Homo sapiens: one gene and its partner. The protein of the gene in region 1 purifies or fractionates together with the protein of each later gene. This does not show direct contact. Each region holds a gene or a part of one and is shown on either strand. Other genes may lie near its edges.

Region 1 (2,595 bases):
TAAAGAGGTGGTGGGGGTGGATGGTGCTATGTTAGGAGTGGTGGTTGGTTTTAAGAGGAAAGACAGAAAAACTAAAAGGAGCTGGCCCCAGTACCACCAAGGCAAAGCCAAATTTGGCTTCAATTAAGAGCTCCACAGGAAAATTATCAACACAATGCCCAGGTGCAGAAGATCCTTGTTTTGACACGGGGTTTAAGTCGGGATGTTTTGTTCAATTGTCACTGCTTCCTTGGCTTCCCAAGAGAGCAGCTGAGCCCAGACTCAAGCTGGCTGCAGTGTTCCATCAGGCTTATGGCTTTTGTGCTTGAGGCCTCCCTGCCGCTTCATGGGTCAGGTGTGATATTCAATCACTGCCTTCTATGTAGTCTGGCCTGTCCCACCTTTATCTTGCCTGGGTGAGGATATGAAGAAGGGAACATATGACATTACCACTGTTGACTGAGTAGGAAAGTATATAGGAAGCGGGATGACAGGGAGGACCACTGGATCAGCCGCTGCAGTTCCAGACTTCAATCAACATTTTAATTACCAAGTCTATATTTAGCAAGACAATGTGGGAGAGATAAAGAGGAAGGAAGGGGTAGGTGGGGAGGGGTTCTCAAAGGAGCTGACCCATTTTCTGCATTGGCTGCAGAGCCTTGCAGTCCTGGCCAGGAGTTCTTGGCCTTGTGCCTTTCAGAAGTGCCGACAGGCATCAAGGAGGTACTTACGCAGCTACAGCTCAGTGGCAGCTGCAAACCCCATCTACGAAACATGTCATCAGGACTGTCCTTTAATAGTCTTCCTCCTCTCTGCAGCTGCGGGAAAGAGGACTGGCCAAGAATTTCAGGTGGGGTCAGTGTGACTGCAGGGTCACCGCAACAGCTTTGGCTGTGGCGTTGAGGACGGTGGTGGGAAGCCGAGCAGCAGGGAGCATGGCAGGGATGTCTCTGGGGACCCTCTGGATGGGCGGGATGTTGGGGCCCTCCAGTGTGTCCAGGATCCCTGGAAGGAAGATGGAAGGTGAGCGAGGATCAGATGGGCCCAGCCCACCAGCCATCATATCTAGCTTCTTGCTCTAGGCAGCTGCTTTCCCATTCTCCCCCACCCAGACCTTCCTGCCACTTACCCTCTACCACTTTGTGGTAGGCAAAATGCAGATAGAGCAGGAAGAGCATGTGTAGGGCAGCCAGGGTGCCACAGAGGAGCAGCCGCTGTGTGGGGCCCACGGTCCGAGACACCAACACTGCTACCTAGGACCATGAGAATACAGCTCAAAGGGCCTGGCTCCAAAGTGAGGAGTGGGGACAAGACACCCCCACCCAGGGCAGAACCATCTTTGGGCTCTTCCCTCCCATTTAGGGCTCTTTGTGAGATGGACAGCTCCAGGCTGTCTTCCCCAACTCCCTGGGAGGACAGCCCACCCCTGGAAGCCTCTTGCCCAGCTTACCATGCGCAGTGTGGACAGTCCACCCACCAACAGCCAGAAGAGGTAGAAGAGGGCGTGGAGGTGGATATTATAGGTGATGAACAGGACAATGCAATGCCCAAAGAGGCCATAGCCCTGGGAAGGAGGATGGTGGAGAGGAAAATCATTCAGGTTGGGCTGCTTTCTGGCCCCTCATGGGGACCCTGGGAAACACATGGTCCATTGGCCTACTCCTCCCATTCCAGGCTTTGGGGCCCCAGGACAGATGCCGACCAAGGCCTGGCTACTCTTTTTAACATCACTCTTGCCCACCACACCTGGCTCCTTACCAGCAGTGCCAACATCTGCAGCATGGTGATCTGGGCGTTGCACAGGTAGGCAAGGAAGTAAATGAAGGATGAGACTCCCAGCCAGTAGCCGAAGCAGGTGCCAATGGCTGTGCCCATCAGGGTGCCCTCCCGCTGTGGGGTGAAGGCTCTATTTAGTCCTAGGAGGCCTCTGATCTCAGCCTCACCTAGGGCCTTCCGCAGGGGCTGTTCCTGTCTCACTCCACCATTGTATCCTCAGGCAGCTTTCAACCTAGTGCAGCCACCCCCCCAAAGTTGTCTGTCCTGCTTACGATAATAGTGTCAGACGTCTTCATCCCATGGAGTAGGATAGCAACCAGAGTGAAGACCAGCATGAGAGGTCCATAGAGTTCACCTGCAATTTTCTGTCAATATACCAATTCATTCAGGCTGGAGGGTACAACAGCTCATCTGTTTATGGCTTCCCAGGATTTGCCTGGTGGTCCCACCCTCTGCCCTGGTGCTTCCCCCGGCTCTCCAGACATGCCACCCTCTATTCACCTGGGGGAAGTTGACCATCTTGATAGGGATCATGGACTCCAGGAGCCTGGGAGAGGAGAGGAGAGATTAAAGCAAAGGCAGCACAAGGCCATGAGGTTCTGGAGGGCAAGGCCTGAATTTTATTCATCTCTAACTCCAGGGAATGGGGCCTGGCCTAGAAGACATGTTGGATGACACGGTAGAACAGGGTAGTAAAGACAGATAGGGAATGAGGAAATCATTTCCTTGCCCCTAAAGTTACTTCCAGGAAGGACAACCCTCTGAAACTTAGCTGACTGAAACAGCAGCTATATGGAGAACTCAGCCCTACTGGGCCTTGAAGGAGGGCCCGACCATGTA
Region 2 (3,500 bases), on another chromosome or scaffold:
ATGAGAATGTAGGGCAGGAAGCGGTCGTAGGCACCTATGGCAAAGCAGACGGAGCCTCAGGCCCAGGGCTGCAGTTAGACTTGGTCTCTCATCTACCCCTTTATGCTCCCAGGACTCTGGAAGGGGATCACTTTCCTTCTTGGTCTCACATCTCTCACAGTCTGAGCAGTCAGATTAGAATCTGGCATCTAGACAGGTTTCAGAACCCAGAGCTGGCACAGGCATGCCCAGAGCCCAGCAGTGTTCCACCATGCAGGGGAGGAGTACAAAGGGGCGGTTGCAGTAGAAGAGCTGGGCCATGCTGATTATTCCTATTTCTGGGCCATGCTGATTATTCTTATTTACCAAGGTTGGGTTTCCAAGGAACCTGAGGTACTTGTCCAGGGATGGAAATAACTCTTCCACCTCTGCAGATGTGTCCCAGCCCATGTGATCTGCCTTCAGATTAGGCAGGGTGCTTTTGCTTGCTTTGAGATCTACATAGCATGTTCACAAAGCACTCTGAGTACTCTCAGGTGGGTGCCACCCTCCCTAAAGAGGTACTGGCTAGGGATGTGCAGGAAACCACAGGTGCTATGAAGACATAATTCTGAGAAGAGAAAACTGGAGACCTGCTACATAAAATGGCATGGGGTGGATCTTCACACAAGATAAAATCACTCTATAGTGCTCTAGGTTATAATAATTTTCCGTTCATCAGACCTCTTGCATGGACATCTTTCCCCTCATGTTCCTTTTAAACTCTGATTCCAAGAAATTTCTCCAACTAAGCACACTGGCTCCCTAAACCACTCTGTAGGTTCTTAGGATAAAGGAATTGTAGTCTCTGATGGAAGGCCTGGGATGGCTAAAACAGAAACAAACCCTCTAATATTCTCATCAATTTCTAGGTAATCTATAGGTTGTTTTCCATTTGAAAGTGAGGGCCAGTGCACTGGGACAAGAACCCTTCCCGGCCAAAGATCCAGTACTGGATGGAGCCCATGTACTGTATGAACTTGTTTTCCTGTTAACACGCAACCTCCAGCTCACATTCAAGCCAGTTAGTACTTCCATCCCGTTGCTCTAGTGTGCCCTTGGCTCATGGGACTTACCAAGGTAAACGAAGTAGGGAGACAGGATGCTGCCCAGGCGGGATGCTGTGGAGCTGACTCCCACACCCATGTTTCTCACCACTGTGGGATACAGCTCGGCTGTGTACACGTAGACCATGGAAAAGGCAGCCGTGACTCCAAACTTGCCCACCATCACCAGGACTGTAGCCAAATAATACAAGTCTGGAGAAGCAAAGGAAAGAGGGTAGGAGTAGGTACCAACCCATGGCATGCAGCTATTGAGAGCAAAACAAACATACTTTCTTCCCAAATTTTTTGGGGAGTCAGTTTCTATCACTTCCTATTGTGGGGGAAGGGGCTATAGCCAAGATTTCCCTCCAAATTGATTGCTGAAAGGAGGCTGGGACCTGCAGCTATAAGGACATGCACTTTCCTCAACCTGGAGACCACCAGAGTAAGCTCCTTAATAGTCCAATCAACCTGCTTCCCAGTCTATAAGTCATTAAAGACATGTCTGTCAGGGATTAACTGTCACCCCAGAACCTCACACTGCAGGCACTATGGAATTAACTCATGATGTTTAGATGAATGGAGAATTCAGTTCTAACTCATTTCATGCTTTCCTCCCACTCAGACCTCAAAAAAATCATAGGCCATCAGAATCTCAAGTTGATCTTCTAATCTCTCTGTGCTGTGCTGATGGGAGAGCTATGTGTGACCTGAAGGTCACTCTGAGCTCAGCTGTGAGCCTCTACATCAGTTCTGGGCTCCTCCTGCCACATCCCATGGGGAGCTGTTCCCGTGCAGTGTTCTCAGCCTGATGGGCCCAAAAGTGACCATCAGAGGCTCCCAAATCTACAGGTACACTGAAGTCTCTGGGCACAGTGATGGAGAGGGAGAGATGAGGGCCCATGAACTGTTCTATAAATTATTGGAAATGGCTACCTCCCACCCATCTGTGGGATACTAAGATAGTTTCAGAAATAAAATCCTGCTAAGGCTCTGTGAGGCCCTCTCAGTGGTCTGGCCCCTCCCCTTCTCCCTCCTCCTCAAACATGCCAGGCTCATCCCCTGCTCAGGGTCGCTGCCTTTGCCATTTCTTCTTCCTAAAATGTTCTCCTAGACTTTTTCAGGGCTTTCTGTCACTTTATGTACATTTCTACTGAACTGCCCCCTGTTCAGGGACACTATCTGTGACTATGTAAACTAACTCGGCATTGTCCTTCATTTGTATTCCTAGAAGGTAACACAGTCTGAACTATATTAAGCATTTTATTTACTTGTTTGTTGTCTGTCTTCTCATCTAGGGTGTACGTTCCATGAGGGCCTGGGGTTCTGCCTGGCTTGTTTTCTTGTGTATCGTTATCACCGAGCACAGTGCCCAGCCCATGGTAGGCATGCCATAGCTATTTGTTGAATAAATAAAGAAGACAGGGCCAGGAAAAAAAGGAATGGGATAGCTATTTCTTCCCTCTTCTTCTGCAGTGGAAAACAGTATGAGCACATTAACTTGGGTACAGAGTAAAATTAACCAACAGCCCCAATGGCTGCTTTTTCCCACTCCCTCAAAGCCCAGGCCATAAGTGTTCTAGTCTCAGAAGACACTTTCTATTGATTTTTAGGCCAAGAATGTATATAAGCAAGGGAGCTGTGATGGGCTTGATTTTATTCTCTTTATTAATTGAGACAGCCTGGTAGACAGTAAGAGACTCAGTGAAGACCCCAAACCATAGATGCACATGGTCCCTACCTGGGGGTACCAGCTGCATGAAGAGAAGGACACTGCCACCCAGGAAGAGGGCAGTGGCCATGGAATAGCGCCGGGGCAAATATTGCAGCAGCAGCCAGGCCAACACATATGCTGGGACTTCAACCATCGCTGAAAGGAAGCAGTTCACAAAGATGTCCCCATGCAAGTTAGGAGTATCAAGCGAAAGCCCAAAATAGCCCACTGATATGGTCATCCTGAAACAGAGTGCAGAAGAAAGCTGGAAAAGCAGTATCCACATCTTTCCCAACCTGTACAACTTTTACAATGCAATTATTTCAGTAAATTCCAAACCATCTTTAAGCAGAGACTAGTAAGGCAGCAGTAACTGTAACCCTGCGTCTTACTTCATAGATCAAAAGATAATTTTCCCCAGCCCAAGTGGTACAGTGTAAACCCTGCGCCAGTGCGCTCTCAGAGCCTTCCATATAGACAGTGTCCCAGCAAAAAAGCTTGTATAATTCAGATAGATTTACTTCATTGAAAAGAAAAATTCCAACCTGCCTTTCAGCTTTAAAAATCCTAAGCTGAACCTCCTCAAATCCAGCAACTGCAGAAGGAGCTAGAGAATGAGTCAGGAGGCAGACATCAAGTGAGGTGTGATAGGATTTGGGGGATAAGATAACAAAAGGAACAACATTAGGTCAAACACTTGGAGAGAGACCCTCACACACTAC

What was found.
Region 2: the proteins of YIPF3 (region 1) and SLC22A5 purify together in Homo sapiens (co-immunoprecipitation; 4 studies listed by BioGRID and IntAct, with this or other methods). This does not show direct contact.

The regions. Positions count from the first base shown.
Region 1 is NC_000006.12:43,511,332-43,513,926, forward strand, and holds the end of YIPF3 (protein YIPF3), read right to left. Parts: intron 2,303-2,595; coding exon 2,257-2,302; intron 2,121-2,256; coding exon 2,028-2,120; intron 1,870-2,027; coding exon 1,738-1,869; intron 1,544-1,737; coding exon 1,430-1,543; intron 1,233-1,429; coding exon 1,109-1,232; intron 985-1,108; coding exon 836-984; 3' UTR 501-835; downstream 1-500. UniProt on the Homo sapiens protein: Involved in the maintenance of the Golgi structure. May play a role in hematopoiesis.
Region 2 is NC_000005.10:132,390,210-132,393,709, reverse strand, and holds part of SLC22A5 (organic cation/carnitine transporter 2), read right to left. Parts: intron 3,021-3,500; coding exon 2,806-3,020; intron 1,278-2,805; coding exon 1,095-1,277; intron 35-1,094; coding exon 1-34. UniProt on the Homo sapiens protein: Sodium-ion dependent, high affinity carnitine transporter. Involved in the active cellular uptake of carnitine. Transports one sodium ion with one molecule of carnitine.